Regions from separate parts of the Homo sapiens genome. Here all the other regions are linked to region 3. Evidence: fine-mapped expression QTL. A gene starts in region 3. Each other region holds a variant in brackets. All regions are shown on one strand. Distances are from middle to middle. Region 1 overlaps FCHSD2 (FCH and double SH3 domains 2). Region 2 overlaps FCHSD2 (FCH and double SH3 domains 2). Region 3 holds the start of ATG16L2 (autophagy related 16 like 2). Region 4 holds the start of STARD10 (StAR related lipid transfer domain containing 10).

What was found.
Region 1: its variant is fine-mapped to the expression of ATG16L2 in whole blood (INTERVAL, PIP above 0.99).
Region 2: its variant is fine-mapped to the expression of ATG16L2 in blood mononuclear cells (TOPMed, PIP 0.96).
Region 4: its variant is fine-mapped to the expression of ATG16L2 in whole blood (INTERVAL, PIP 0.93).

Annotation. Positions count from the first base shown.
Region 1 is chr11:73,030,983-73,039,087 of GRCh38, reverse strand. All of the region lies in intron 3 of FCHSD2 (FCH and double SH3 domains 2), which reads left to right. Among named protein-coding and RNA genes, the nearest start is that of FCHSD2, 110 kb to the left of the region's middle. The variant AAAAC/C (reference allele first, on the strand shown) is at 3,390.
Region 2 is chr11:72,941,374-72,949,478 of GRCh38, reverse strand. The region is part of intron 8 of FCHSD2 (FCH and double SH3 domains 2); the gene reads left to right. Among named protein-coding and RNA genes, the nearest start is that of ATG16L2, 130 kb to the right of the region's middle. The variant A/G (reference allele first, on the strand shown) is at 4,974.
Region 3 is chr11:72,809,563-72,817,664 of GRCh38, reverse strand. ATG16L2 (autophagy related 16 like 2) reads right to left here and starts at 3,254. Exons shown (of 18, transcript NM_033388.2): 1 at 3,102-3,254; 2 at 838-937. The coding sequence starts at 3,219. LOC107984421 (a long non-coding RNA gene) reads left to right here and starts at 3,598. Exons shown (of 3, transcript XR_007062771.1): 1 at 3,598-5,032. RefSeq lists enhancers at 2,482-2,631, 4,642-4,771, 4,932-4,991 and silencers at 3,162-3,611, 4,012-4,101.
Region 4 is chr11:72,790,092-72,798,196 of GRCh38, reverse strand. STARD10 (StAR related lipid transfer domain containing 10) reads left to right here and starts at 4,150. Exons shown (of 7, transcript NM_006645.3): 1 at 4,150-5,322. RefSeq lists enhancers at 1-15, 3,825-4,394, 5,526-6,025. The variant G/A (reference allele first, on the strand shown) is at 4,327.

The sequences.
Region 1 (8,105 bases), 220 kb before region 3:
ATAAACAGTGATTCTGCAATTATTATGGAGACTTAAGTAATATTAGAAAGAAGTAAGGAGATACACTTGGAAGATACTAAGTTGATACAACTTGATAGAAGATTATGAATACTAGGCTGGGGGTCATTACAGAAGTCAAGCCAAAAAAATGTACTGGAAAAAGAACACTAAAGTGGGAGGCATGTCATAATTTATATGGATATTGGCCTTATTACTTGGTGACAGATCTTTTTTTTCAACTTTTATTTTAGAATCAGGGGAATACATGTACAGGTTTGTTACAAAAATATATTGCATGATGCCGAGGTTTGGAGTATGAATGAATCTATCACCCAGGTAGTGAGCATGCCTAATTATTTTTTCAACCCTTGCCCCTGCCTCACTCCCTGCTCTTGGATTCCCTAGTGTTTATTATTCCCATGTTTATGTCCATTTGTATTCAATGTTTAGCTCCCACTTAGATATGAGAACATGTGGTATTTGGTTTTCTGTTTCTGTGTTAGTTTGCTTAGGATAATCGTTGCCAGCTACATTCATGTTGCTACAAAGGACAAGATTTCATTCTTTTCATGGCTGCATAGTATCCACGCTGTATATGTACCACAGGTGCCCATCAGTGGTGAGTGATCTTGAGTCACTGCCCATTTTTCTTGATCTGAGAGGATTCGACTGGATAAATTATAAGGTCCCTTTAAGAATCAATCAGTCATCAGAATTTCTTTTCCTTTTTTTTTTTTTTTCTTAAAGAGACAGGGTCTTACTCTGTCACCCAGGCTGGAGTGCAGTGGCACAATCATAGCTCACTGCAGCTTCAAACTCCTGGGCTCAAGCGATCTTCCCATTTCAGCCTCCTGAGTAGTTGAGACTAGAGGCATGCACTACCACGCCCAGTTAATTTTTAAATTTTTTAATAGAGACAGATCTCCTTGTTGCCTAGGCTTGGCTTGAACTCCTGGCCTCAAGCAATCTTCCCACCTCGTCATAAGAATTTTTTAGTGATAGATGGTTTTGTTTTTAATATTTCAGCTGGAAAACTATTTTAGCATCTAGCAGAAGACTTGTTTGTGGAAAAAGCTTGACTTGGTGAATCTTTTCATCAGAGTAATCCCTATGTTTCACATATTTCATATAAAAATAAAATAAGTTTCCCACTCTTTAGTGTGAAATTGGTGAGGGATTGGATATAAAAGGTTATGCTCTGGATATCCCAGAGAACTGCCTTCTTCTTTTCCTAAAGTTGTCCACTATGTTTGAGGTTCTGCTCTATGCATAACAAGTGTGATTGCTTTTGGAGGGTTACAAGGTAATGAGGACTCCTATATTCAGAATGTAAAACCCATTTGACAAAGTAAGATAGGTATGCATAAAAGTTACAAATATATACTATCAATAGGGCTATATCTGACTTATATGATTAAATGGCCACATTCATAACATAATCAGTATGGGCCCTAAGTTTTTAGGAAAACATGGTAAGTGGGATTAGAATATCTAAAGACGACAAGAATATTGTGTGGATATGGAGAAAGAATGCATTCTATACCAGAGAAAGGCTGCTATCAAAAACTCAGAGGCAAAAAATAATTTTGGGCATAATTATGAGATAGTAAAAAGATCAGTAGTTGCCAGAAGTTGAGGATGAAGGGGAAGGGACAAATAGCAGAGCACAGGGGATTTTTAGGGCAGTGAAAATAACTCCCTATGATACTGTAATGATGGATATGTCACTATATGTTTGTCCAGACACATAGACTGTACAGCACTAAGAATCCTAGTGTAAACCATGGACTTCAGATGACTGTGTTATGTGTCAGTGTAGGTTCATCCATTGTAAATGTACCACTGTGGTGGGGGATGTTGTTAATGGGGAGGCTATGCATGTGTGGGGGCAAGTGATACATGGGAACTCTCTGTACCTTTCTCTCAATTTTGCCATGAACCTAAAACTGTTCTAAAAAATATGAAGTCTGTAATTTTTAAAAAATGTGAGTATCAAGAGAAGAATATAATAGAATTCTATAAATATCTTCCAGGTGATGAATATGCTCAAAGTCATATGCTCTTGAATTGATATCAGTATTTGGCAGTCCCTATCTGTGTGAAGACATTTGCAAAGATGAAATATTTAAAATCTAATTACAGATCCGCGTTAACAGATGAACGTTTGTAATGGATTTTGATGGTAGGGAACACTAACTTTGAATTTCAATTAAGCAGAATATGTGTATTACAGAAAATTGTACTCAGTTTTTAAAATTTTATCAATAAAAAGTTTGAGGAAAAAATTATGAGTGAACACAATATTTGTGGAGGAAGACTTCTTGAGGGTTGAAATGTTAGTACCTTGTATATAGTAGAAGTTAGGCTTTGTTACACGGATGAATAAATACACAAATAAAATTACCTATTACTCATTGGACTCAGTAAGATACCCAAAGTAGAACTAAAATTTATAGACTTGATTCTACATTTAATAATGACATTGAAAGTTTTTAATCACAGTAATCATGATTATAATTTATCAGGGACTTGCAGTATGCTAGTCATTGTACTCATCATTAAATTTAGGTTTCATTATTATGCCCATTTTACAGTTGAGGAAACTAAAGCTCAAAGTGACTAATGAAATTATTTTCAGTGTCAATTTATAAATAAATAGTAGAGCTTGGATTTGAACCCACATTTATTTGACTCCAAAGACCGATATAACGTTGTGAAATATTGTACAAAATAGTGATTATGAAGCTTGGGTTTTTTTTTTTTGTCTTTTATTTCCTATACTTCTTTGGTTGTTTCTTACCCTTCACACATTTCAAAATTATTATGTTGGCTCCAATACTTTAATGTTTCTAATTGTATATTTTTCTTCCTTTAAAACCTGCCCACAGGTCAACTCCACTGGGAAGCTTGGAAGTCAAATGACCCATGTTCTAATCCCAGTTTTACTACTGGTTCACTTTGAGCCCTGTCCAAGCCAGTCTACTCTTAGCCTTTAGTTTTTTCAACTAAAAGTAAGAAGTTTGCTTAAATATTTGATCATTCTTGTTTTAACAACATTAATAAAAACTGGGCGAGGAGTGGTGGCTCACGCTTGTAATCCCAGCACTTTGGGAGGCTGAGGTAGGCGGATCACAAGGTCAAGAGATTGAGACCATCTTGGCCAACATGGTGAAACCCTGTCTCTATTAAAAATACAAAAATTAGCTGGGTGTGGTGGTGCACGCCTGTAGTCTCAGCTACTCGGGAGGCTGAGGCAGGAGAATTGCTTGAATCTGGGAGGCAGAGGTTGCAGTGAGCCAAGATCGCGCCACTGTACTCCAGCCTGGTGACAGAGCGAGACTCCATCTCAAATAAATAAATAAATAAATAAATAAATAAATAAATAAATA[AAAAC/C]TGAACATTTCAGTACTGTTCAGTACTTAAAATAGCATTTGGCATATTGTAGAAAATTCTCAGTAAGTACTTATTGAATAGATGAAGGTATTAAGCACTTAATGTATGCCATACATTGGGCCAAGTGCTTTATAAACACTGACTCATTTGCTTAGCAACAATGAAGTAGGTACTATAACTATCTTTATTTCTGAGATGAGGACATCCAAGATAAAAACAAGTTAATGGCCAGGCGCAGTGGCTCATGCCTGTAATCCCAGCACTTCGGGAGGCCAAAGGTGGGTGGATTGCTTGAGCTTAGGAGTTCGAGAACAGCCGGGCAACATGATGAGACCCCCGTCTCTACAAAAAATACAAGCCAGGAGTAGTGGTGCGTGCCTGTAGTGCCAGCTACTCTCTTGAGCCTGGTGGGTGTGGAGGTTGCAAGTGAGCCAAGATCGCGCCACTGCGCTCCAACCTGGGTGACAGAGCGAGACCTTGTCTTAGTACGTACATACATACATACATACATACATACATACATACATACATACATACATACATAAAAATAAAAACTAAAAACAAGTTAAATAACTTGTCAAGGTCCAGGAGTTAAACCTGAGAATGTGTGTCTGTGCTCTTAACCAGTATACTAGTTGTTCCCAATAGTGGCTGCATATCAGAATCACCTGTGAAGTTTGTTAAACTATCAGTGTCTCAGCCCCACCTCTAGAGTCTGACTCAGCAGGTGACATTTATCCTATAGTACTTTAGCTGCCTGTGGAGTGACCTTTTTAAAGGTACTACTTTGCACCCAGAGGATTTTCAGTTGTGTTGTTGACAGACAGATTGACAGTCTTGGTTCTTTTGACTTTTAGTCCTTCTATAATTTATTTTCTTTTGCTGCTTCGAAGTTCTGGTCAAAATTCACCTGATCCTTAATAAGTAAATTGCAATGCTCTATTTACTTTTACTTTAAAATTTGCAGGTCATTTTGTGCAAATAAGTTTATTGAAGTTGAAAAAAATTGGGAAACTTCAACAATGTAGGCGATGTAGTATCAAGAGTTAAAGCTTACTTTGACTGACTTTTTCTTTACTATGAGTATAAATTTGCTGAGTTCTGAGTATTGTGTTTTATTGATGTGGTTCCTAACTTGAGATGTTTTCACAAGAGTGGAAACTTTGATCTCTATTTCCTTGGTACAGGCTCAGCCTCTGGTACCGAATTTTAACATTAGTAACAGTTTCTGGTGTGTAATCATTTGTGTTTTAGGTTAGACAGCTGGAAATTGCTTCTTTCAGGAAGAGGAACGTTTTTGCATGTTTGTGTGCTACCAAAGTCAAATCAGACAGGCTACATGAGAATTTCTAGCTTCATGTTTTGAAGTAGGTGTGAGCACTTGGTCTTAAAAGGCTTTTAAAAAATTCCACTTTAACGTATCTGTAAATATATTTAAAGAAAAACCTTAAAGGGGAGGGAGAGCATTAGGACAAATACCTAATGCATGTAGGGCTTAAAACCTAGATGATGGGTGGATGGGTGCAGCAAACCACCACGGCACATGTATACATATGTAACAAACCTCCACATTCTGCACATGTATCCCAGAACTTAAAGTATAATAAAAATAATTTTTTAAAAAAGAAAAACTTTAGAAAGAAAAAAGCAACTCTTAAAAAAAGATGATATATTTGCTATCGGTATTAAAATTGTCTATTATATTTTCATGATTTCTATTCGTAATAACATGATAAATAAAATTTCTTTAAAACAACATTATTGAATGTTTCTGTGTCATAAGCGTTGTTTACCATCATGTTTCAACTTCAAGTCACGTCATCAAATAGGTAAATACAGTATACTAGTTGTTAACTGGGATGTGGGAAAAAACCTACTTAACCTAGTTAGCTTGGTGTCTTATCCAAGAATACTCATAACTAATTCACAGCAAAGGCAGTACAGTACTCAAACTCAAGTGTTGACTTCAAAGTCCTGGTCTTTTTACTATTGCCAATAACCATAAATTATATAAATTTGTATAGAATTCCATAGTTTGAGTATTTAATTAACATAGTTTTATCCTGGTTTGGGAGTGTGGATATGCTTGTAGTTGCTTCATATCTTTTAATGTTAGAGGAATATTCTTGTGGAAGATGTCTTGTGTAGCGCCCTATAATTCCTCCATTTCTGTGCTACATCTAGTAGATCTAAAATGTGAGGGGTCAGAGTATGTTTATAAGCGGAGACCTTAGAGATTACCTGTTTCTGTCTCTTCTGTTCATAATTCTAAAATTCTTTGCACTAAAACTTGTCCCATTTACATCTCTTTGCCTCCATACTGTGCATATCATCTTTGGACAGGACTAGAGTGGTAGCCTCCTATGGGTCTCCCTGACTGTAGTCTAACTACTTTTTTTTTTTTTTTGAGTCGGAATCTCGCTCTGTTGCCCAGGCTGGAGTGCAGTGGCGCGATCTCAGCTCACTGCAACCTCCGCCTCCCGGGTTTATGCCATTCTCCTGCCTCAGCCTCCCGAGTAGCTGGAACTACAGGTGCCCGCCACCATGCCCAGCTAATTTTTTATATTTTTAGTAGAGACGGGGTTTCACCATGTTAGCCAGGATGGTCTCGATCTCCTGACCTCATGATCCGCATGCCTCAGCCCCCCAAAGTGCTGGGATTACAGGTGTGAGCCACCGCACCCGGCCAATCTAAGTACTCTTAATCCATGTTTCCCACACTGCAGCTAGAATGATTTTTAAATCACATTTTAGTCTGATAATGGCACTGCACTGCTCGCAAGCTTGATTTCCTGTTGTCTTAAGGTAGTCCAAACATAAATCCTTGTGTGATATAGCCCTTACTTATTCAGTCTCACCTTTAAGCCATTCTCCCTTTTACAAGCTCCATGCCAGCTTGTATGAAGTTTCTTGAAGGGGCTATGTTCCCACTTGCACCCCACCTCTCGTTACAGGCTCTTTTTTTTTAGATGTCAATTTTCATTTCCTTTGGGGAAGCCTTCCCTGACTCGATCTCTCTGCTTTATGTTCCCATATACTTTCCTGTTGTAATACCTACACCAAATGGTGACTTCTTGAGTTTTTCCTCTTTGTTGTGCTTTTTTTTTTTCAGTTAGGAAGGTAATAAACATTTGCTTTAAAAATACTGAGCAATTAAGTGATAGAAATAGGCCAAGCATGGTGGCTCACACCTGTAATCCTAGCACCTTGGGATGCCAAGTCGGGAGAATCACTTAAGGCCAGGAGTTTGAGACCAACCTTGGCAATAAAGTGAGACCCTGTCTCTATAAAAAAATTAAAAAAATTAACCAGGCAATGCACACCTGTAATATTAGTTTCTTGGGAAGCCGAGGTGGGAAGATCGCTTAAGCCCAGGTATTTGAGGCTGCAGTGAACAATGATTGTGCTGTTGTACTCCAGCCCGGGCAACAGAGTGAGACCCCATCTCTTAAAATAAAAAAACATTGAACAATCCAGTGGTATAAAGAATAAAAACTAAAAGCTCTTACTTTTGAACCTCATTTCCAAGTTCATATGTATTCTAGAGTATATATGCTTACATGTTTTTTAAATTAAAATAGGACCGTGCTATTCATTTTTCTGCAGCTTATATATTTTTATTAAATATTTGAGACTATATAGCACATTCTCTTTAATAATTGTGTAACATTGCAGCATACTGATGACCATAATTTAGTTAATAGTTCCTCTTGGTGGATATTAATTTTTTAAATTAATCCCTGGCAGAATATACATACCAGAAGAACATTGATAATACCCATAATGTTTATTGCTATTCCCCCAGCATCTAATACAGTGCCTTCCCTATAGAAAGCACTTAATAAAACTTGTTAAGCAATGCATATGCCTTTTCCAGGCGAAAAGGCTGCTGTGCCAGCTCTTACCTGATTTGTGTTGGTTACCTGTAATGTATCAGTTCATATCAATGGTGAGAAATAGAATAACGGGAGTGTGGACTGGCCTTGGAGTCAGAAGGCTTGGGTTGGATTCCTGGGTATAAGCAGTGTTGGTTAATATGGTCCTTTGTTGGTCAGATTCTAATAGGATACTTACTACATTCAGTTTAAGTGAAGATCGAACAACATAATGCATATACAAATACTTTGTAAGTGTAACACCCAGTACAAATGTTGGCATTACTGTCTCCCTCCCCGTTCCTGGTAACCACTGCTTTATTCTCTCTCTGTCTCTCTTTTTTTTTCGGAGACAGGGTCTTGTTCTGTCACCCAGGCTGGAGTGCAGTAGTCACAACTCAATGCAGCCTCCACCTCCCGCCCTCAAGTGATCCTCCCACCTCAGCCTCCCGAGTAGCTGGGACTACAGGCACACACCACCACACCAGGCTAATTTTTATAATTTTTGATAGAGACAGGGTTTCGTTATGTTGCCCAGGCTGGTCTCAAACTTGGCTCTAGCAATCCACCTGCCTCAGCCTCCTAAAGTGCTAGAATTACAGATGTGAGCCACCGTGCCCGGCCTTTATTCTCTATTTATTCAAGTTTTTTTATTTTTTTAGATTCCATATATAACAGATCAAATAGTAGTCGTCTTCTTTCTATCTGGCTTATTTCACTTAACATATTCTGGATGAACCCATCCAGATTCATACATGTTGTGACAAATAGCAGGATCTCCCTTTTTTTTAAGGCTGAATAGTATTTCTGGAGGTGTGCGTCAATGTGTGTGTGTAT
Region 2 (8,105 bases), 130 kb before region 3:
CCTTTCTTTTCTTTTCTTTCTTTCTTTGAGATGGAGTTTTGCTCTTTGGTGCCCAGGCTAGAGTGCAGTGGCATGATCTCGGCTCACTGTAACCTCTGCCTCCAGGGTTCAAGTGATTCTCCTGTCTCAGCCTCCTGAGTAGCTGTGATTACAGGCACCCACCACCACGCCCAGCTAATTTTTGTGTTTTTAGTAGAGACAGGGTTTCACCATGTTGGTCAGGCTGGCCTTGAACTCCTGACCTCAGGTGATCTGCCCGCCATGGGCCTCCCAAAGTGCTGGGATTACAGGCGTGAGCCACCACGCCCGGCCAGGTTTCTTTTTGTGGTGATAAAAATGTTCTGGAATTAGGTAATGGTGATGGTTGCACAACTTTGTGAATATACTAAAAGCCACTGCATTGTATACTTTAAAATGATTAACTTAATGGTGTGTGACTAATATCTCAATAAAAAATAAGACTAGTGACTGTGAAAATCTAGCATCCCACCAGTAATCAAAGAAATGAAAATTATGCTGGGTGCTGTGGCTCATGCCTGTAATCCCAGCACTTTGGGAGGCCGAGGTGGGCAGATCACGAGGTCAGGAGATCCAGACCATCCTAGCTAACGTGGTGAAACCCCATCTCTACTAAAAATATAAAAAATTAGCCAGGCGTAGTGGCGGGCACCTGTAGTCCCAGCTACTCGGGAGACTGAGGCAGGAGAATGTTGTGAACCTGGGAGATGGAGCTTGCAGTGAGCCGAGATTGTGCCACTGCACTCCAGCCTGGGCGACAGAGCGAGACTGCCTCTCAAAAAAAAAAAAGAAATGAAAATTATGACAATGTTAATCTTAATTGTATCCATTAAAATGGTAAGTTAAAATTTTGTTAATACACTCATATTCTATTATTGATAATGTAAATTGATACAGTTGTTTTGGAGGACTTAATTGGTAATATGTATCAAATGCTTTAAAATAAACTATATTCTTTGTCTCAGAAATTATGTTGTAAGAATTTATTCTAAGGATATAATAAATATCTATTATGATATTTGTCTACATGCTTGATGATGACAATGAGATTAAAAATGGAAAGCAACTAAAATGTTGAAAAATGAAACATTCAGTAATTTTGAAGTAATTGAAATGTTTCATAATAAGCAGCCAATAATTTATGATATCCAGTGGCTGGGCACAGTGGCTCACGCTTGTAATCCCAGCATTTTGGGAGGCTGAGGTGGGTGGATTGCTTGAGTCCAGGAGTTCAAGACCAGCCTGGCCAACATGGCAAAACCCCATCTCTACTAAAAATACAAAAATTTGCCAGGTCTGGTGGCACATGCCTGTAATCCCAGCTACTCAGGAGGCTGAGACAGAAGAATTACTTGAAACCCAGAGGTGGAGGTTGCAGTGAGCCGAGATCGCACCACTGCACTCCAGCCTGGGTGACAGAGTGAGACTTTGTCTCAAAAAAACAAAACAAAACAGACAAACAAAAAATGTATGATACCCAAACGATGTCATAAAAATTATGTTGTATAAGATTATACCATTATAGTGCCATGAAAAATGTTAACACTGTATTAACTGATTAAAATGAGAATCATAAATAATATGTAAAATATAGTCTTGAATTTGTTTTTAAAGTCTGTTTTATAAGTTAATGTTCCCATATTTATGTGAGATTACCTGTGATTTTTGTTTTCTTTGGATTTTTCTGTATTTAATTTTCTTTATGAGAAAATTATGTTTTCAATATTTTTTTTAACTAATGATTTTATCACACTGTAATTTATAATCAGAAATCTATGAACTAACTTTTGGGAGATTTAAAGTAAGGGCTGTTCCAACAGAATGTGCTGGAGGATGGGAGTTCCTACACGTCCATTAGGACCAGCAATATAGTGGTGTGGCTATTAATCTTTCATTATAATATACCCATTTCTTGCTAGACTCAGTGACTCTGGTTGATTAGTTCATTGCTTAGAATAAGATCTTGTGGTCAATTCCTATGTGAGTCAAGTAAACACTGACTTTGGCTTTAGTTCTAGTCAGACAACTTGTAAGTGTGTATCACAAGTCAGAGGGGACACTACATGGGAGAGCATAAGTGGATTTTTGTAGATCAACCATTGTTGTGGGAAAACCTCTTCAGTTCTGCTCCTCTTGGCCAGATGTGGGCCTGAGTGTGAGTCTGGATAAGAAGAGTTCAAACTTCTCTTGTGACACACAGCATTTCTTACCCAGGGGAAGTTTAAATAAATTTGAACATAAAACCTAGGTCTTCCACTTGGTTTAAAGCCCTTAACTAAGAAATAAGATATATTGGAAAATGCTTCGTACCTACAGCATTGTTGTTAAGAGATGTTGGCCCCATGGGGCATGCAGCTGTTAAACCAGAGTGACTCCCAGACCCAGTGATGTGAGTCTCATTTTCTTGGACCTGAATCTCACCTGGGGCCTGGGAAAGCAGGCTGGGACACAAGGAGAATAGCTCTTGGGTAGCTGGGTGAGCTATTGCATAGATGGCTGCAAAGACTAGTCCCACAAAGAGGGGCACCTGGTGCTGCCTTGTTGGCAGGCAGTCATTTTTGTCCTACATCCTTGTGAGTAGTCTTGTGAATATGAATGTTTACTTAAGCTTGAAAAATTTCCCTAGGCATTATACTTAACATCTTGGGACTCAGTTTCCTGCTCTGTAAAATGAAAATGTTGTCTACCTTAAAGGTGGTTGTAAAAAGTAGAGTTACTGCACAAAGCTCCTAGAATATAATAGATATTCTGTAAATGGTAGCTATTACTCTGTTTATACCATCGTATTTTAAAGGTAAAATATGCTAGATACTTCCACAATACCTATTTTACAGACTTGCATTAGAGGATATTGGCAGGTATTGACATTTTGAGCATTGTAATTATTGACCATGTAATTGTCTAGTTTTTTTTAAATTATACTTTAAGTTTTAGGGTACGTGTGCACAACGTGCAGGTTAGTTACATATGTATACATGTGCCATGTTGGTGTGCTGCACCCAGTAACTCATCATTTAACATTAGGTATATCTCCAAATGCTATCCCTCCCCCCTCCCCCACCCCACAACAGGCCCTGGTGTGTGATGTTCCCCTTCCTATGTCCATGTGTTCTCATTGTTCAATTCCCACCTATGAGTGAGAACATGTGGTGTTTGGTTTTTTGTCCTTGCGATAGTCTGCTGAGAATGATGGTTTCCAGCTTCATCCATGTCCTTACAAAGGACATGAACTCATCATTTTTTATGGCTGCATAGTATTCCATGGTGTATATGTGCCACATTTTCTTAATCCAGTCTATCATTGTTGGACATTTGGGTTGGTTCCAAGTCTTTCCTATTTTGAATAGTGCCACAATAAACATATGTATGCATGTGTCTTTATAGCAGCATGATTTATAATCCTTTGAGTATATACTCGGTAATGGAATGGCTGGGTCAAATGGTATTTCTAGTTCTAGATCCCTGAGGAATCGCCACACTGACTTCCACAATGGTTGAACTAGTTTACAGTCCCACCAACAGTGTAAAAGTGTTCCTATTTCTCCACATCCCCTCCAGCACCAGTTGTTTCCTGACTTTCTAATGATCGCCATTCTAACTGGTGTGAGATGGTATCTCATTGTGGTTTTGATTTGCATTTCTCTGATGTCCATTGATGATGAGCATTTTTTCATGTATCGTTTGGCTGCATAAATGTCTTCTTTTGAGAAGTGTCTGTTCATATCCTTTGCCCACTTTTTGATGGGGTTGTTTTTTTCTTGTAAATTTGTTTGAGTTCATTGTAGATTCTAGATATTAGCCCTTTGTCAGATGAGTAGATTGCAAAAATATTCTCCCATTCTGTAGGTTGCCTGTTCACTCTGATGGTAGTTCCTTTTGCTGTGCAGAAGCTCTTTAGTTTAATTAGATCCCATTTGTCAATTTTGGCTTTTGTTGCCATTGCTTTTGGTGTTTTAGACATGAAGTCCTTGCCCATGCCTATGTCCTGAATGGTATTGCCTAGCTTTTATTCTAGGGTTTTTATGGTTTTAGATCTAACATTTAAGTCTTTAACCCATCTTGAATTAATTTTTGTATAAGGTGTAAGGAAGGGATCCAGTTTCAGCTTTCTACATATGGCTAGCCAGTATTCCCAGCACCATTTATTAAATAGGGAATCGTTTCCCCATTTCTTGTTTTTGTCAGGTTTGTCAAAGATCAGATAGTTGTAGATATGCGGCATTATTTCTGAGGGCTCTGTTCTGTTCCATTGGTCTATATCTCTGTTTTGGTACCAGTACCATGCTGTTTGGTTACTGTAGCCTTGTAGTATAGTTTGAAGTCAGGTAGTGTGATGCCTCCAGCTTTGTTCTTTTGGCTTAGGATTGACTTGGCAATGCAGGCTCTTTTTTGGTCCCATATGAATTTTAAAGTAGTTTTTTCCAATTCTGTGAGAAAGTCATTGGTAGCTTGATGAGGATGGCATTGAATCTATAATTTACCTTGGGCAGTATGGCCATTTTCACGATATTGATTCTTCCTACCCGTGAGCATGGAATGTTCTTCCATTTGTTTGTATCCTTTTTTATTTCATTGAGCAGTGGTTTGTAGTTCTCCTTGAAGAGGTCCTTCACATCCCTTGTAAGTTGGATTCCTAGGTATTTTATTCTCTTTGAGGCAGTCGTGAATGGGAGTTCACTCATGATTTGGCTCTCTGTTTGTCTGTTATTGGTATATAAGAATGCTTGTGATTTTTGCACATCGATTTTGTATCCTGAGACTTTGCTGAAGTTGCCTATCAGCTTAAGGAGATTTTGAGCTGAGACAATGGGGTTTTCTAGATATACAATCATGTCATCTACAAACAGGGACAATTTGACTTCCTCTTTTCCTAATTAAATACTCTTTATTTCCTTCTCCTGCCTGATTGCCCTGGCCAGAACTTCCAACACTATGTTGAATAGGAGTGGTGAGAG[A/G]GGGCATCCCTGTCTTGTGCCAGTTTTCAAAGGGAATGCTTCCAGTTTTTGCCCATTCAGTATGATATTGGCTGTGAGTTTGTCATAGATAGTTCTTATTATTTTGAGATACGTCCCATCAATACCTAATTTATTGAGAGTTTTTAGAATGAAGCGTTGTTGAATTTTGTCAAAGGCCTTTTCTGCATCTATTGAGATAATCATATGGTTTTTGTCGTTGGTTCTGTTTATATGCTGGATTATGTTTATTGATTTGAGTATGTTGAACCAGCCTTGCATCCCAGGGATGAAGCCCACTTGATCATGGTGGATAAGCTTTTTGATGTGCTGCTCGATTCAGTTTGCCAGTATTTTATTGAGGATTTTTGCATCGATGTTCATCAGGGATATTGTTTTAAAATTCTCTTTTTTTGTTGTGTCTCTGCCAGGCTTTGGTATCAGGATGATGCTGGCCTCATAAAATGAGTTAGGGAGGATTCCCTCTTTTTCTATTCATTGGAATAGTTTTAGAAGTAATTGTGTTGTTTTACCTCCATGTCATGCAATAGAAGTTAAAGTTGGCAGCATCACAATGAATAATGATTAAAGTCTGAGTATTTAATAGTCAGTTTATCTTCATACGTTCTTAGTGTAGTAGTTTACAATATTTGAACATGCCTTAGAACAAATATTTAATTATAGATGTGCTAACTGAAACTTCTTGTAGTTAATGAACTAATAAAATATCAAAATACAATGTTTATGTATCTTATTCAGCAAGTATTTCTTGAATAAATACTAAGTGTGAGGTATCATTCTGAGTGCCTCAGTGAACAAAACAGCCAATATAATTTTATATTTTAAATATGTAAAACACTGAAACATATATGTTCAAAAGTCAAATAGACTGACCCAGGGAATTCTCACTTCCATTTCTGTGCCCTTCATCTCCGTCTCACCTGTCATTCTCTTCAATTTCCTTCCCTTTCATTAAAGCTATTAATAAATAACCAAGGTAATATGAAGTTCACATTTACTGTTTTCCCATAATCCATATTGTTCTGTGCTGTCTTTTTCCTGATTCAGTGTCTCACTAATCCTTTCCTACTCAAACCTCTCCATCAGACATCTTGGAATTCTATTCAGTAGTCCTCAGTTAATCCTAACTATAGTTGAATTAAGTAGGTTGAAGTTGAAGTAAGTGTTAAATGTAGATAGTAAATATAAAAGTCAGGGCTGGGCAAAGTAGGTCATGCCTGTAATCCCAGCACTTTGGGAGGTAGAGGTGGGCAGATCACATGAGGTCAGGAGTTCGAGACCAGCCTGGCTAACATGGGGAAACCCCATTTCTAATAAAAATACAAAAAATTAGCTGGGCATGGTGGCACGCGCCTGTAATCCTAGCTACTCAGGAGGCCAAGGAAGGAGAATCACTTGAACCCGGGAGGCGGAGGTTGTAGTGAGCCAAGATCGCACCATTGCACTCCAGCGTGAGCAACAAGAGCAAAACTCTGTCTCAAAAGAAAAAGTCAGTATTAATGAATTTGTGATTTAGCCAGGCATGGTGGCTCACACCTATAATCCCAGCACTTTGGGAAGTATGCACCTGTAGTCCTAACTACTTGGAAGCCTGAGGTGGGAGGATTCTGAAGTCCAAGAGTTTGAAGCTGCGAACTATGATCATACCACTGCACTCCAGCCTGGGTGATAGAGCGAGACCCTGTGTCTAAAAACAAAACAGTGAGATATGACTTCACATCCTCTAGGAGAGCCATAATAAAAATAAAATAAAATGAATAGCATAGCATATACCATAACATTCTATAGCATGTTTGTCAATACTTTTTAATTTTAATAAAGTATGTATTTTCCATTTGATTACCAAAGTACCAGAAGAAAATTTGAAAAGTACAGAAAACCTAAAGATAAATTAAAATAACTTCACATTGTAACAGTAAACCACTCTTACTGTCATCTTGGCATATCCTTCTAATCTTTCCTAGGCATGTATTACATATACATGTTTCAAAATTGTTATACACGTAAGTCCTTTTATTTTTTCACATAAAATACATTCTGAGCTATTCCTGCCTGTGTTAGCCCATTTACATTGGTTTAAAGAAATACACAAGGCTGGGTAATATAAAGAAAAGAGGTTTATTTTGGCTCACAGTCCTGCAGACTGTACAGGGAGCATGCTGCTGGCATCTGCTTCTGGTGAGGCCTCAGGAAACTTACAATCATGGCAGAAGGCAAAGTGGAAGCCTGCATGTCATATGGTGAGAGATGGAGCAAGAGAGGAGGGAGCTGCCAGGCTCTTTTAAACAGCCAGCTCTAGTGTGAACTTATAGAGTGAGAACGCTCTCATTACTGTGAGGACAGCAGCAAGTCATTCATGAGGGATCTGCTGCCATGACACAGACACCCCCTGCTAGGCCCACCTCCAACATTGGAGATCACATTTCGACATGAGATTTTGAGGGGACAAAACATTCAAACTGTATCACTGCCTTTACATGTTACTTGAAAATGTGATTTTAATGACTGCATAGTATTTGATCATATTAATATGCCATTAACTTTATTACTTTTTTATGCTTTTATAAACTTTTTTAATGCTTTTTAGTGAAGGTTCTTTTTTACAATCTTAATACACCTCTTTGATAACTTCCTTAAGATATCTTTTTTTGAAGCTACATTCCCTGGTCAAAAACAAAGATTGGTTAATACTTTTCATTTGGCTAGCTGATTGCCCTCTGAAAAGATTATATCAGTATATACTTCTGAAAGCAGTGTATGAAAGTGCCTATCCTTGCACCCTTGTCAAAACTGTATTTTATATTTAAACAAACGTACATATATGAGCAACAATCTGGATGAAGGTAAAGAAATCTTAATTTTTAATTTTTTGCTTACTAACAAATTGAACATTTTTATTTCATGTTGTTTAAACAACTCTTCTGACCAGTGATGAGTTAAAAGAAAAAATAGATCAATACAAGAACAAAACAGTTAATGATAAAGTAATAATAAGTAATATATTAATAGAGTTGGGAGTCTATATTTTATACTAAGCAAACTGACATCCAACATAATTTATAATTTGTATTTTTATAAATATAAAAATTATATAAATTATAATTTAAGTATAGT
Region 3 (8,102 bases):
AGAGCCATTAACTTCGTCCTGGGAAGATGGAAGCCAGCAAGCCAGTAAAGGAAAAGGCAAGTCTCTAGAAATGAGCTGTCCATGACTCCTCTGCTCTAAGATTCCCCTAGGCCTTGGCCAAGGACCCTTCTCAAGAAGCACCTCCCAGTCAGGCGTGGTGGCTCACACCTGTGATCCCAGCACTTTGGGAGGCCGAGGTGGAAGGATCACAAGATCAAGAGATCGAGACCATCCTGGCCAACATGGTGAAACCCCGTCTCTACTAAAAATACAAATATTAGCCGGGGGTGGTGGTGCACGTTCCAGGAGGCTGAGGCAGGAGAATTGCTTGAACCCAGGAGGCAGAGGTTGCAGTGAGCTGAGATCACGCCACTGCACTCCAGCCTGGGTGACAGAGCCAGACTCCGTCTCAAAAAAAAAAAAGCAAAGCACCTCCCAACTCTGAGCCCCAACCTATTCCTGGTTCTCATCTTTACTCCCTCTTTGCAACAGGTAGCAAGACCCTTTCTTTAGGCATCAGGCAAGGAACAGGGAAATGGAAAAAGACTGAGAAAGGGAAAAGACATAAGTATAGGGGTGGGACGGGAAGGAGATGGGACAAATGCAGAGAGATGGACAAAGAAAGGTGGAGGGGAAAGAGATTCTAAACAGCTGTCCTGTGGGAAGGCCAAGGGCCTGCCTCCCCCACCACCCCCACCACCTCCACCACCCCCACCACCCCTGGGCAGCAGCCAAGGGCTGATGAGGCACTAGGGAGAGAATGAACCCAGCACAGGCAGCAGGGGCAGGGCCCCAGCACAGGCAGCCCTTTGTGACCACGGACCCACATACACTTACCAGGGGCCCTGGTGGGTGGTGGGAGTGACACTGTTTGGCTCCGGCTGCAGCTTCTTTGAGAACTTGTCCAGCAGCTCAGCCTTCTCTAAGAGATGGTTATCTGGAGAGTGCAAGAGAGTGAGCCTGGGGCAGAGACAGATACCCAGCAGCCCCCTGGCATGCAATTTATCTCCGGCTAAAAGGGCTGAAGGAGCCCAGAGATGCTAGGGATGGGGAAGCTTCTGGCAGGCTGGCCTCTGCCCTGTGCCTGAGGGGCATCTGTGCAGTTCTACAGGACCTTCAGCCCTAGCAGTGTCCTCATAGCACCGGTCCCCAGGCCCACGTGGAAGAGGACCTGCTCTCCCAGGGACAGAAGGATGACCACTGCGGGGTACTGCCCGCTGAGGGTCCTGAGGGAAGGAAGGGGCCTGGGATTGATTCATCCCTGCCTCAGAGCAAGGCTTAGCCCCAGAAAGTGATGAAATAAACCGAGCTCTACCTGTCAATGGCCTTTGGCAAGTCACTTCCCCTCCAAGGGCTCTAGCTTTCTGCACTTAAAAATAATCCCCAGCCGGGCGCGGTGGCTCACACCTGAATTCCCAGCGCTCTGGGAGGCCGAGGCGGGCGGATCACGAGGTCAGGAGATCGAGACCATCCTGGCTAACACGGTGAAACCCCCATCTCTACTAAAAAATACAAAAAATTAGCCAGGCGTGGTGGCAGGCGCCTGTAGTCCCAGCTACTCGGGAGGCTGAGACGGGAGACAGGCGTGAACTTGGGAGGCAGAGCTTGCAGTGAGCGGAGATCACACCACTGCACTCCAGCCTGGGCAACAGAGCAAAGACTCCATCTCAAATAAATAAATAAATAAATAATCCCAACTTCCCCAGCCCTGGTGTAAGGTACCCCCAGGCCAGAATAGAAAGTCCTTGAGCAATTATCCAGCCGACATTCTGGAGGTTGGTGGTTTGACCCTGGAACACCCTCCCCCATCAACAGTCACTTCCTCTTTTCTCACCAGTTCCAGGGGAGGGTGGGGTGGTAAGTCCGGGCCTAGCTCCCTCCTCATCAACTTCCTTCCCACACTCAGTGCCCTGTCACCTTGACTGAGGCCCTGGGCCTGGCCTAGTTCTCATGAAAACCCCACCTCAGCCCCCAGGGTACTGCAGCACCCAGCAAACCTAAAGAAGGTCTCTATACCCAATTAACAAGTAAGAAGACTGAGGCTTAGCGATGTGATCTGCCCAAGGTTTCAAGACTGGCCCTTCAGTCTGATTTCAGCCCTCCAGATCTCTCTAGTCCCTCAGACTCACAGCTCCCTGGGTCGGGGCGGGGGGCAGGGGTTGGGGGGGCGGTGACCCCCTCCCTCAAACTGGACGGTTCCACTGTCTGTCTGAGCAGTGGAGAAGTGTGGCTGCTGGAGGTGGGGGCTGGCCTCGCAACCCTGAAGGTAGAGGACCAGCAGCCTGGAAGCTTGCAGAGAAATTTTCCTGGCTAAGAGCAGATTTGATTGTGGGGGTTTGGCCAAGATTAGCCCCAGTGAGAGAGCCGCAGGGATTGTGGTTAGACTTCCAACCACAGACATACAATCGCAGGCGGCCAGAGGTGCGACACACAGGCACACCTGTTCATCCCCTCTTGAAATGCCACACCCTATCCTGACCAGCTGCCCAGAAACAATTCTGAGAGTCCGACTTCGCTGGGCTCAGCCAGCATCCACCAGCAGCCCGGGGCCCCCTGATGCCCCCTCAGGCTGGGTAGGCTGACAGGGAGGTGTTCCATAAGCCTGTGCCAGCGTCGCCTGTCAGCGGCAGAGCCTGAGATGCACAGCCTCCTCCTTAGAGGTTCCGAGTGTCGCCCCTCTCCGGATGGGCCAATAAGTGGCTGCTCTGGACAAGTCCCGCGTTCTTTCACTGCGCTACCGAGACTAAGTGCACTGATCAAGCCCCTACCCCGGGGACTGCCCGGGTGGGGAGGCAAAAGAGACCCTGCAAAACCAACACCCGAGGACGCACTTGCGTCTCGGAAGCCCAGCTTGTGGGAGGCAGAGCCCGTCCTGAGGGGCGACGAGGGCAGGGGGACCAGGAGGGGCTCGTCCAGGTTCTAACCAGAGCCTGGATGGCAAGGGGCGGAGTCCTGGCAGTCGGGATGGGCGTAACGCACAGGCTCAAGGCATAAGGCACAGCGCACTCGGGTCACAGGCGGAGGAGCCAGCCAAACCCTCTCCCCGCGCCCGTAGCCGCGTCCCCTCAGCCGCCATCCTCTCAGCACCGGGGCGCACTCACAGGCCGGCACCAGCTCCAGGAAAAGCGCCTTTTGCGTACGGTCCCGAAGCCGCAGCTGCCGCACGATGTGGCGTTTCCAGCGCGCTGCGGGGGCACCGGGGACGCCCGGCCCCGCCATGGCCGCGCTCTCCCGCCTAGCGGCGCGTTCCTCCCGCCCAGGACGGCGCCAGGCCGGGGCGGGGCCTCGCGGGGACTCCGTGACGCCAGGGGGCGGGCGGCGGCGGGGAATCCCCGGCTTGTCCCAAGAGGGCTTTGGCGGGGAGGACCGAAGGCCGACGCCGGGAGGATCTGCCTCCGGGAGGAGCCGCCTCCGGGTCTGAACCGCCGGGGCCCCGTCCGAAATGTTCACCTAAGTGGGGGCTCCTGTGGCTGCGAGGGTCATAAGCAGGAGCGAGGTCGGAGCCTCCGGGGAGGCTTCCCCCACGCGGGTGGAGCGCTCCGGAGGCGGGGCCCTCAAGGCCCGGGTGTCTTAACCCCGCCGCGCCCGGGCCGAGTTCGAGAGCCGCTGGTGCTTCCCAGGCCGTCGCGCTCCTGGCCGCGCACCCAGCCAGGGACCCAGAGGCCCTCAGCCCCGGGCTCTGCGCGTACACTGAGGGCGCGGCGCAGCAGGACAGCAAGATAAGGAAGCAGAGACTGAAGGGAGGAATCCCCGCTTTCCGGGGATGATGGCGTTCGAGTTGGGTCTGTGAGGGATGAAATAGGAGTTGGCCAGAGGGAGAGAGGGACTCTAGGCCTCGAGAAGAGCACGTGCAGAGGTTCCGTGACACGAAAACGCCAGGTGGGTGCGGGGCTGGGAGGACAGGAGGCAGAAGGGTTTACGGCTCCACATGGTCGCCGAAATTTTAGGTCCCTGAGAGTAAAGGGGTGCAGCTGATTTCATCTAGAAAGCCCCTGGCCGGGAGGAGAGAACGAGCTTGCTTGCCTGGGGTTGCAAAGGAGTGGGTAGCTGAGACGGCCAGCACCCCAGCATCCTGACTCAGGGCCAGACGCTTCACCCCATTGGGCGGCGTCTGGAGGAGCAGACACATCTCTTGTGGGTACCCTCGAAAGTGAATCATGGGTCGCAGGGAACTGTGGTCAAACCGTCTCTAGCTAGATGCTAGAGAGCCAGCTCTGCAGGCTCAGGCTACTGTGAGACACGAAAGGAGGGACTCGCTGGGCACAGCCTCACCCTGGGGCATGCCAGCAGGCCCTGCCCTCTGAGTGTTGGCAGACTTGAACATCCCTAGGGAACGAGAGAAGTTGGGCAACGATGGGAGAGCAGTGCAGGCCCTGGAGGTGACGAGTCTGTTGAGATTCTGATGGGGATGGGTCAGAGGACGTAGAAAGCAGTGAAGGCCTAGACGCCCCCAGGTCAGTGTAGCCTGCTCTGCTTCCAGTGAGCTGGGCTCAGTCCCCCACATGTCATTGTCTTAGACGCCCATGGCCTTTGCACAGGCCGAGCCTGATGTTTGGAACATCGTCGCCTCTAGGGGGCCTGGCTCCTAATCATGCATCACCTCCTCCAGGAGAACTTTCCTGCCCCTACACTGAGTTCAAGCTTCTCAGACACCAGCCCCAGTTGAGTTCGAGTTATAACCGTCACCAGTTATCACACCATCCTGTAATCTGTGCGGTGCCCCTTAGGGCAGGACCTGGGTCCTAGATGTCTCTGTACCTCTAGCCCCAAACCAGGCCTGACCTGTCTCTTGAAGGAGTATTTGTGTTGAAGATGGGTGGTAACGTTCAGCAAAAGCCATGCCCAGGAGACAGGCACAGTACCCATGGAGACCCAGGGCCAGCTGATGACAGTGATGAATTCCCTTTAGAACTGGCGGACTCTTGGGTGCTTGGAGACACTATATAAATAAGGAACTCTGGCTGTGTGCATGGGAGAGTATATTAACAGGGCTTGGCCTGGCTGTGAGGTGCAGAGATGCCGTTTCTCTCAGGTAAGGAGCCATATTGGGGCAGGGGTTTCCTAATCCTTTTTTGACTCACAAAATACACCTAGGAAATGTTAAATAAATAGTCATTTTTGAGTAGTATATGATAAAGAAGTGATTGATTTTGACTAAAAATATTCATGTTCTATTTTTAGAATATGAAAGATTGTATTATAAAGATCACTTGAAATAAAATTTTAGATAATATATGGAGACAAATTTCTGCTTTTTACATTTAACTTGCTGTTTAATGTATCTCAAATTATTTATGTAAGAGATATATGATTTGACCAATAAATATAAAAAAATGTTATACCATAATCTGGGGACCTAAAGTACTTCACTTTTTTTGTTCTGTTTTGTTTTTGAGACAGGGTCTCTCTCTGTTGCCCAGGCTGGAGTGCAGTGGCCCAATCATGGCTCACTGCAGCCTCATCCTCCTGGGATTAAATGATTCTTCCACCTCAGTCTCCCGAGTAGCTGAGACTACAGGCACATGCCACTATCGCTGGTTTTGTTGTTGTTTTGTTTTGTTTTGTTTTTTGAGACAGAGTCTCTGTTACCCAGGCTGGAGTGCAGTGGCACAATCTCGGTTCATTGCAACCGCCTCCTCCCGGGTTCAAGCGATTCTCATGCATCCGCCTTCCGAATAGGTGGGATTACAGGCATGCGTCACCACACCCAGCTAATTTTTGTACTTTTAGTAGAGACAGGGTTTCACCATGTTGGCCAGGCTGATCTCCAGCTCCTGACCTCAAGTGATCCACCCGCCTCAAGCCTCCCAAAGTGCTGGGACTACAGGTGTGAGTCACCGTGCCCAGCCGCCCAGCTCATTTTAAATTTTTCTTGTAAAGACAAGGTCTCACTATGTTGCCCAGGCTGGTCTCTAATTCCTGGGCTCAAGCAATCCTCCTGCCTTGGCATCCCAAGTGCTAGCATTACAGGCATGAGCTACTGCACCTGGCCCTAAAGTACTTAAAATGTAATTTAAAATTTGCACCTGGGAGGCCAGACACGGTGGCTCACACCTGTAATCCCAGCACTTTGGGAGGCCAAGGCAGGTGGATCACAAGGTCAGGAGTTCAAGACCAGCCTGGCCAGCATAGTGAAACCCCATCTCTACTAAAAATACCCAAAAAAAAGCCAGGCTTGGTGGTGGGCGTCTGTAATCCCAACTACTCAGGAGGCTAAGGCAGAGAATTGCTTGAATCCGGGAGGCAGAGGTTGCAATGAGCTGAGATCGCACCACTGCACTCCAGCCTGGTGACAGAGCGAGACTCCATCTCAAAAAAAAAAAAAAAAAAAAAAAAAAAAGTGCACCTGGGTTAGGCATCTCCCAGAAGCCAGAGTGATTGTTCAAAAACTTAAATCAGGCCAGGCACGGTGTCTCACACCTGTAATCCCAGCACTTTGGGAGGCCACGGTGGGCAGATCACCTGAGGTCGGGACTTTGAGACCAGCCTGACCAACATGGAGAAACCCCGTCTCTACTAAAAATACAAAAATTATCCAGGCATGGTGGCGCACGCCTGTAATCCCAGCTACTTGGGAGGCTGAGGCAGGAGAATCACTTGAACCCAGGAAGCAGAGGTTTCAGTGAGCCAAGATTGCGCCACTGCACTCCAGCCTGAGCAACAGAACAAGACTGTCTCAAAAACAAAAACAAAAATCTTAAGTCATCTCAAGTTCCTCTTGCTTAAAACCCTTGAAAGGCTCTCCAGCATAGTCAAAGCAAATACCAAACCCTTTACCATGGCCTTCAAGGCCCTGCTTGATCTGGCCCCTGCCCACATCACTGATCTTACCTCTTCCTACTCTTTAGCCTTATTCACTGCACTGAAATCCCACTGCCAAGCTTAGCCCCACCTTGGAGGCTTTGCCCTGGCTGCACCCCTCTCCTAGTGCTCTTCCTCCACAACTTTTAGAGGCTAGCTCCTACATACCAGGCAGATTTCAGAAGACCTTTCCTGTCATCCAATCTGAAAAAGCTCCCATCCCAATCAGCGTCTATCACATCACCCTTGTTCTTCCTTTCAGAGCACCTAATACTCCCAGAAAGAATCACATTTCTGTGTTTGCTAGTTGTTTATTATGTCTCTTCTACCAGGCTGGGAACTTCAGGAAAGCCAGGACCAAGTCAATCTTGATCTAGGCTCTGTCTTCAGCATCTAGAACCAGGCTTGGCACCAACTGAGTAGGTAATCCGTAAATAAATTGCTGTTGCTGTGTATCAAAAAGAAAAAACCAAAGTTTGCATGGTCCAGTGCTTAGAAGTTTTGAAATAAAAAATGTAGCTATTTTTTGGCTGGGTATAGTGGCTCACGCCTGTAATCCCAGCACTTTGGGAGTCCGAGGCGGTGGATCACCTGAAGTCAGGAGTTCGAGACCAGCCTGGCCGACATAGTGAAACCACGTCTCTACTAAAAATACAAAAATTAGCCGGGAGTGGTGGCAGGTGCCTATAATCCTAGCTGCTTGGGAGGCTGAGCGGGGAGAATCACTTGAACCTGGGAGGCAGAAGTGGCAGTGAGCTGAGATCGTGCCATTGCACTCCAGCCTGGGCGAAAGAGCAAGACTCAGTTTAAAAAAAAAAAAAGTAGCTATTTTTTAAATTGGAAAACCAATCACATGCACATAGCAAAGAATTGAAATAGTACAAAAGTGAGCCTGTTTGCCTCACACCTTCATATTGATCAGGATAGGACAGGCTGGTCTGTGGTTACAGTGATTTCTTTTTTTTTTTTTTTCTTCCAGAGATGGAGTCTCGCTCTGTCTCCCAGTCTGGAGTGCAGTGGCATGATCTTGGCAATCTGGGCTCACTGCAACCTCCGCCTCCCAGATTCAAGCAATTCTCCTGCCTCAGCCTCCCGAGTAGCTGGGACTACAGGCACACGCTGCCACACCTGGCTAATTTTTTGTATTTTAGTAGAGACAGGGTTTCACCACGTTGCCCAGGCTGGTCTCAAACTCCTGAGCTCAGGCAATCTGCTCGCCTCAGCCTCCCAAAGTGCTAGGATTACAGGCGTGAGCCACCGCACCTGGCAGTACAGTGATTTCTAATATTGCCCATGACTGT
Region 4 (8,105 bases), 19 kb after region 3:
CTATAAGCATATGGATGGAAGTGAATGAGGTCATCCCAAAAAAGTGTGCAGAGTAAAGAGAGGGTCTGTGGCAGACCTGGAGGACACCAGTATTTCAGGCTGTCCTAGCCCAATCAGCCAAGACCACCAAGGAACAAACCCATGGTTTGATGAAGTCAGGTTTCTTGTCCCCTTGTAATGAGACAGACAGCACACTGGAGAAACCAAGGAGTGTCCCACTAAGCACAAAGGAAGATAGTTTTACAGGGTTTGGGAGGGGGTGGAGATGAGGTGAAATTTAAATGAAGCAATATTTTGATAGGCTCAAAGCAAAGCAGAACTGTGTATAAAGGGGCTGGCATCAGTTCTGGACTGCCACAGGACCTACAGTCCTGTTTCTTTGGAAAAAATAAGATAGATGTAGAATATTGTGTTCAAAACTTCCTTACCTGGATCTCTGTACCTGCATTATAAACCCTGTCTATTTAGTGACTTAGATCTTCCAAGCAAGTGTTTTTCTTTTTCTTTTTCTTTTTTTTTTTTTTTTTTGAGCTGGAGTTTCACTCTGTCACCAAGGCTGGAGTACAGTGGCATGATCTCAGCTCACTGCAACCTCTGTCTCCCGGGTTCAAGCAGTTCTCCTGCCTCAGCCTCGAGTAGCTGGGACTATAGGCACGTGTCACCATGCCCAGCTAATTTTTGTATTTTTAGTAGAGACAGGGTTTCGCTATGTTGGCCAGGCTGGTCTCGAACTCCTGACCTCGAGTGACCTGCCCATCTCAGCCTCCCCAAAGTGCTGGGATTACAGGCATGAGCCACAGCACCCGGCCTCATTCTTATTCATATAATTTTTAAAAAATTGTTTTTTTTTTTGAGACAGAGTCTCACTCTGTTGCCCAGGCCAGAGTGCAGAGTGCAGTGGCACAATCTCGGCTCACTGCAACCTCCACCTCCCAGGCTCAAGCGATTCTCCTGCCTCAGCCTCCTAAGTAGCTGGGATTACAGGTGTGCACCACCATGCCTGACTAATTTTTGTATTTTTGGTAGAGACAAGTTTTCGCCATGTTGGCCAGGCTGGTCTCGAACTCCTGGCCTCGAGTGATCCCCATGCCTTGGCCTCTGAAAGTGTTGGGATTACAAGCGTGAGCCACTGCACCCGGCCTATTAATACAATTTTGTAAACCAAAAAGTACCTGAGACAGGTCTCTATCAGTTTAGAGATTTATTTTACCATGGTTGAGGACAAACCTGGGAAAGAGACAACAGCCACAGTAGAATCTGTGGCCCATACTTTTTTTCCAAAGAGGAGTTTGAGACCAGGTGGGGTGGTTCACGCCTGTAATCCCAGCACTTTGGGAGGCAAGGCAGGAGGATCCCTTGAACTCAAGAGTTTGAGACCAGCCTGGGCAACATGGCGTAACCCTGTCTCTACAAAAATCACAAAAAATTAGGCTGGGCGCGGTGGCTCACACCTGCAATTCCAGCACTTTGGGAGGCCAAGGCAGGGGGATCACCTGAGGTCAGGAGTTTGAGACCAGCCTGGCCACCATGGTGAAACCCCATCTCTACTAAAAATACAAAAATTAGGCCAGGCATGATGGCTCACGCCTGTAATCCCAGCACTTTGGGAGGCCGAGGTGGGTGGATCATGAGATCGGGAGTTCGTGACCAGCCTGACCAACAGCGTGAAACCTCGTCTCTAAAAAAATACAAAAAAAAAAATTGCTGGGCATGGTGGTGAGCACCTGTAATCCCAGCTACTCAGGAGGCTGAGGCGGGAGAATCTCTTGAACCCAGGAGGCAGAGGTTGCAGTGAGCCAAGATCACGACACTGCACTCCAGCCTGAGCGACAGAGCAAGACTCCTTCTCAAAAAAAAAAAAAAAATTAGCTGGGCGTGTTGGTGTGCGCCTGTAATCTCAGCTACTTGGGAGGCTGAAGTAGAAGAATCCCTTGAACCTGGCAGGCGGAGGTTGCAGTGAGCCAAGATCGTTGCAGTGAGCCACTGCACTCCAGCCAGGGTGACAGAATAAGACTCCATCTAAAAAAAAAAAAAAAAAAGGCAAAACATAATTAAAGTGAGAATTAAAAAAAAATTAGCCAGGTGTAGTGGTGTGTGCCTATAAACACAGCTACTCAGGAGGTTGAGGTGGGAGAATAGATTGAGCCCAGGAGGTCCAGGCTGCAGTGAACAATGGTCTTGCCTCCAGCCTGGGTGACAGAATGAGACCCTGTCTCAAAAAAACAAAAACAAGGCCGGGCACAGTGGCTCACACCTGTAATCCCAGCACTTTGGGAGGCCGAGGTGGGCGGATCACACGGTCAGGAGATCGAGACCATCCTGGCTAACACGGTGAAACCCCATCTCTACTAAAAAAATACAAAAAAAAAAATTAGCCCGGCGTGGTGGCGGGTGCCTGTAGACCCAGCTACTCAGGAGGCTGAGGCAGGAGAATGGCATGAACCCGGGAGGCGGAGCTGGCAGTGAGCCCCAGATCATGCCACTGCACTCCAGCCTAGATGACAGAGCAAGTCTCCGTCTCAAAAAAAAAAACAAAAAACAAAAAAAAAACCACAAACGAACAGCCCCTGCCCTCCCCCCAAAAAAGACAAACTGCATCTCACACACAGGTGACCCCTGTGAATACAGTCTCTGAGGAGTGATGGAAGAGGAAGCCCTGTGAGAGGTGCAGACTGCTACCCTCTAGAACACCAGGATGCCTAAATAGTAGAGGGCAGTTTCATTAGCGACATCAGTTTGCAAACTGAAAAGAGACACTCTCCTGTAGGTACCAAAGGTGCTCTCTCTTTGTATAGGGAAAAGGCAGGCTGGTTGTTTTTTGTTTTTGTTTTTTGAGACGGAGTCTCGCTCAGTCGCCCAGGCTGGAATGCAGTGGTGCGATCTCGGCTCACTGCAACCTCCACCTCCCAGGTTCATGCCATTCTCCTGCCTCAGCCTCCCGAGTAGCTGGGACTACAGGCGCCCGCCACCACACCCAGCTAATTTTTTTGTATTTTTAGTAGAGACGGGGTTTCACCATGTTAGCCAGGATGGTCTCAATCTTCTGACCTCGTGATCCGCCCGTCTTGGCCTCCCAAAGTGCTGGGATTACAGGCGTGAGCCACCACTCCCGGCCTAGGCTGGTTTATGACTCACAGGGTCTGTATTTCACAATAATCATACATATTCAGCAGGTTTTGGGGAAAAGCTATACATATTTATGAGGGGATGTGAGTGCATGCACAATGGGTAAACACCTGTAACATATGTTCCATGTTCACTTTGGGATGGGGTTTTTGCGTTAAAGTGAGGTGGAATTTGGTTCTTTGCATCATAAGGTGGACTATAGGACACAAACACAGTTTGCGTGCAGTCTCTATGAGCTTGCTGAAACTGGCCTGAGGTCTGCAGTTACTTATCAGGAAAGAATGTTTGTAAGGCCTGTCCTCTGTCGATCAGCGTTGTAGTGGTCTGAGTTGTAAATCTCAGTAAAGAAGAGTCTGACAATTTGCATGATAGCTCCTATTGCTAGGGGTTTAGTAAGAGTGTGGTTTTTCTGGCAGCAGTAGAAATTTAAGAAGTTGCCATGCCAGCTGACAGCTGAGCCCTGAGGTAGGCAACGTTTGTTTCCTTAACCTTAACCTTAAGGTCCATCGTAGTTGATAAAAAGGCATCTGGCCAGGCCTGATGGCTCACGCCTATAATCCCAGCACTTTGGGAGGGTGAGGCGGGAGGCCAGCAGTTCTGGGGCCACTGCACTCCAGCCTGACAGACAGAGACCCTGTCTCAAAAAATAAATAAATAAAAAAGATAAAGGGGCATTTGTCTTGATCGCTCAGATCACACAACTAATAAGTAGCATTCTTTCTAAAAGCCGCAACAATGCTACTCCTCTCTTATAAGAGCTACTGTGTAACTCCTGCCCAACTCAAACCCACAGGCCCAGGCTCAGAACACTTGGCTCCATTGCTTCACTGTTTCCCTGCTAGCACGAACCCCCCAAACTCCATCTCCCAACATGCCGCGGGCCCCCTTTCTGTCAGCCTGACTCTTGAGCTCCTGAGAAATGTAGTTTTTCCAGCGGCCCAGCCCCAGAAAGGTCCTAGCCAAGAACTACAGTTCCCATGTGGCAATGCGCGCGCCATTCCGGTGGAATTCACCGCGGTCTCCAGTTTGCCATGATGGATGCCAGAACCTGCACGTGGGGCTTGGTGACGCGATGACTGAGATGCTGGAGTCCCCGGTCAGAAGGACGATGCCGAGCGCGCCGTATTTTCTCCTGCCTCTCCTCAGATCGCCGCCGTTGTTGGGCTGTGGAGACGTCTCAACCAAAGTGGAGCCGACAGA[G/A]GCCCCGGGAGCCGTGGTGACAGAGCGGCCACAACCACTAGGGGGCGGGAGGCAGAGCGGCCCCTAGTCCGCCCCTAGTCCGGGACCTCTGGGCGGTCCCGGGCGGGAAGCGCACGCGCAAACGCGGGGCTTCGCGGCCGCTGTAAACACCAAAGAGCGCCTGCGCAAGCCGAGAGTCTCGGGATCGACACGTGGGGGCGCCTGAGCGAAGATAACCGTAATAAATAGTAACCTAACGGTCCAGTCATCGTTCTGTGGTCCTTTCTTTTATGATTCACAAGGAATGACCCTCTTCATCGCCTCTCCTAATTCAGTCCTCACAACAGTCCTTTTACAAATGGGACAACAGGTTAGAGGAAGTCAGGCAGATTTCCAGCATCATAGAGAGTAAAGGACCAGGGAAGGATCAGGATTCAAGGACTGCACCCAGGCTCTGCTTCCAGCTTGCTGTGTGACTTTGGGTAATTTTGTTCCCTTAGGGAACTGAGCTTTCTCATTTGTAAATGCAAACAGGCTGTTGGGAGGATCAAATGAGATCCAGGGGTGAAAACAGCTTAGTTTACTTTCAGGAATTTACCCACGCGGTATATAAAGGCAAAATATTATTATAGTCAGGTGATTGTAGATTGAGGAACCCATTTCCTCATTCTGCAAATTGCAAACCTGAGGGCCCAAAGAGGGACAGGGGCTTGCCCCAGGTCTCAGCAGGCTGTGAGCAAGAGCTAAAGCCTAATCCTCCTGCCTTTGGGCCTGGAGCCCTTCCTTGTACCCCAGGGGTCAGTGTCTTTGTTGGATACAGGCTTAGATTGACTGACTGTACCCTGAGAACCTAGGGGAGTCCCTGTTCCCAATTCTTCTCCTACCCCCACCTTGGCCTGATGGAGGAAGACCCTGCTGTGTTGAGATGAGCACCAGAGCCAAGAAGCTGAGGAGGATCTGGAGAATTCTGGAGGAAGAGGAGAGTGTTGCTGGAGCTGTACAGACCCTGCTTCTCAGGTCAGTGGCCCAAGTAAGGGAAAGAACCCAGGTGTGACAGATGAGGGGGCAGCACTAAGGGGACAGACTCTGAATGGAAAGGAGTGGGAAGGCAGTGGACACTGTTTCTGAGCTTGGGAGGAATTGGGTACTCAGGTAACTCCATCTGGGGGCAGTGGAGCTGGAGGTGATACCTGGGCTGGCCTGGCTGATGAGAAGGGGAAGTGATGCGCATTGAGCTGAGGTCTAGGAGCCACTCCCCAGCCAGGTGAAGCGAGGTGGCACCTAGGCACACCATGGCACCTGCAGGATCATGCAGCTAACCCCAGGGAAGGGGACTTTTCTCTGACCCTTGGAGCGGTGGAGCTGGGCTGTATGCAGCTGATTCTCTCTAGAGTGCTCTTAGAGGTTTTGGGGGTAGGTTGGGGGAAGGGCTGGGAGACCCTGAGGTCTCATTACAGATTGGGCCTCCCCAGGCAAGTCATGAAAGGCAGGTATATGTAGAAATAGAAATCCAAGATCCTTCAAGATATCCCAGATAGGCCAGGCACGGTGGCTCACGCCTGTAATCTCAGCACTTTGGGAGGCTGAGGCGAGCGGATCACCTGAGGTTGGGGGTTGAGATCAGCCTGACCAAAGTGGAGAAACTCCATCTCTACTAAAAATACAAAAAAAAAAATTAACCGGGCGTTGTGGCGGGCACCTGTAGTCCCAGCTACTCGGGAGGCTGGGGCAGGAGAATGGCGTGAACCCGGGAGACGGAGCTTGCGGTGAGCCGAGATGGCGCCACTGTACTCCAGCCTGGCTGACAGAGTAAGACTCTGTCTCAAAAAAAAAAAAAAAAAAAAAAAAAATTAGCCAGGTGTGGTGGTGTATGCCGGTAGTCCCAGCTACTCGGGAGGCTGAGGCAGAAGAATCGCTTGAACCCAGGAGGCGGAGGTTGTCGTGGGCCGAGATGGTGCCATTGCACTCCAGCCTGGGCAACAAGAACGAAACTCCGTCTCAAAACAAAACAAAACAAAACAAAACACAACAACAAAAAGGTATCCAAGATAATTCAATGGAATTATCTGGAGGTGGATCTTGGATTCACCTCCAAGCATTTAATTATCTGGGCCTTCACTTATCATTTCTGTTTTTCAGCCAGAGAAACTGAGGCTAAAGAAGGAAAAGGACCTCTTTTTTTTTTTTTGAGACGGAATTTCACTCTTGTTGCCCAGGCTGGAGTGCAAGGGTGCGATCTTGGCTCACTGCAACCTCCGCCTCCTGGGTTTAAGCAATTCTCCTGCCTCAGCCTGCCAAGTAGCTGGGATTACAGGTGCCCACTACCATGCCTGGCTAATTTTTTGTATTTTTAGTAGAGACACGGTTTCACCATGTTGGCCAGGCTGGTCTCAAACTCCTGACCTCAGGTGATCCATTCGCGGCCTCCCAAAGTGCTGGGATTATGGGCATGAGTCACCACGCCCGGCCAGAAAAGGACTCTATTAAGGACACACAAGGAGTTGGGGTAGAACTGGACTACGACAGGGATCTTTCCATTACATGGCAGTAGTCAAACATCTTCATCAAACATTTATTTAGTGTCTAATGTATACTCCGAGAAGGACTACCTTGGGGTAGCAAATAGAAGCCAGGATTGCCCTCAGACCTGGCTTTTAACCAGCCCTCCCAGTGATTTAAGACTGTGACCCCAGGTGAGTCCCTGCCCCTCTCTGAGCCTCAAATTGTCTGTAAAGTGGGGATGCTAAGCCTTGGGACTGTCTCAATGTTTACCTATAAATTAAATGAGTTAAGACCTGTTATCAAGGTTTACCTATAAATTAAATGAGTTAAGACCTGTTAAGTGCATAGACCAGCACCAGGCCCGTGGTAAGCATTCAGTAACTGTTAGCCACTGTTGTTACTTGTGAACACAGGTCGAGGCAGGCCGCAGATGGGGTTCTCCAAAAGTCAATGCAGGGGCAGAGAAGCAGCAGCCCCAGGTCTGACCATCTCTAGATACCTCCACACCCTGCCCTGGGTGCCTGCATTTCTGAAAGTCAAGGGAGGACCCATGTCCCCATCTCCTCCTCCAGTTCTGGGAAGCTGGCAGGGGAGAAATGTCTCGAGTGTTTACACCTGCACATGCACATGATTCTCTTCCCCACAACCTGAGGCCAAGAGTGAAGATGGTTTTTACTCAAAGCTACACATTACAGCCCTGGACAGTCAGACCAGAACAAGATCCTGGGCTCTTTCTGGCCCTTTCAGGGTGTGGGGTTGTGCATGAGCTTCCTCCCTGCATGGCAGAAGTCCATGAATGCTAACAGCAGGTTCTTGGTCCTCGTTTCCCCTCATGGAGCAGGGGCTGGGGGAAGAGGGGCGCCTGGGTGGGAGACAGGGCCTGACATCAGATACCCCCCCGGCCCACCTTGTTAGTAGTTGGAGGCCTGGCCCTGTGCTCACTTTAGCTCTGTTTCAAGCTTCCCTAATGGAAGTCTGGTTCAAACTCCTTATTTATAGAGGAGGAAAGAGAATCCCAGAGAGGCCAGAACTCACTGAGAGCCCCACGGCGAGGTAAGCGTGAGTCTGGTCCAGAACTCAAGCCTCCTGACTTCAGGTGAGGGCTCTGCCCACAGCCACATGGGAGGGGGCAGGGCTTGATTCCACCTCTCCTCCCCCCACTACCCTCATAGTCATGCTTGGAGCCAGCTCCCAATGTAGCCACCTGGGTGGGCTGTGGTTTGCAGGGAGGGTTGGGAAGATGGAGAGGTAAGGGAAGGAGAGTACAGGGCCCAGTCGGGAGAAACCCAGGGCCGGTC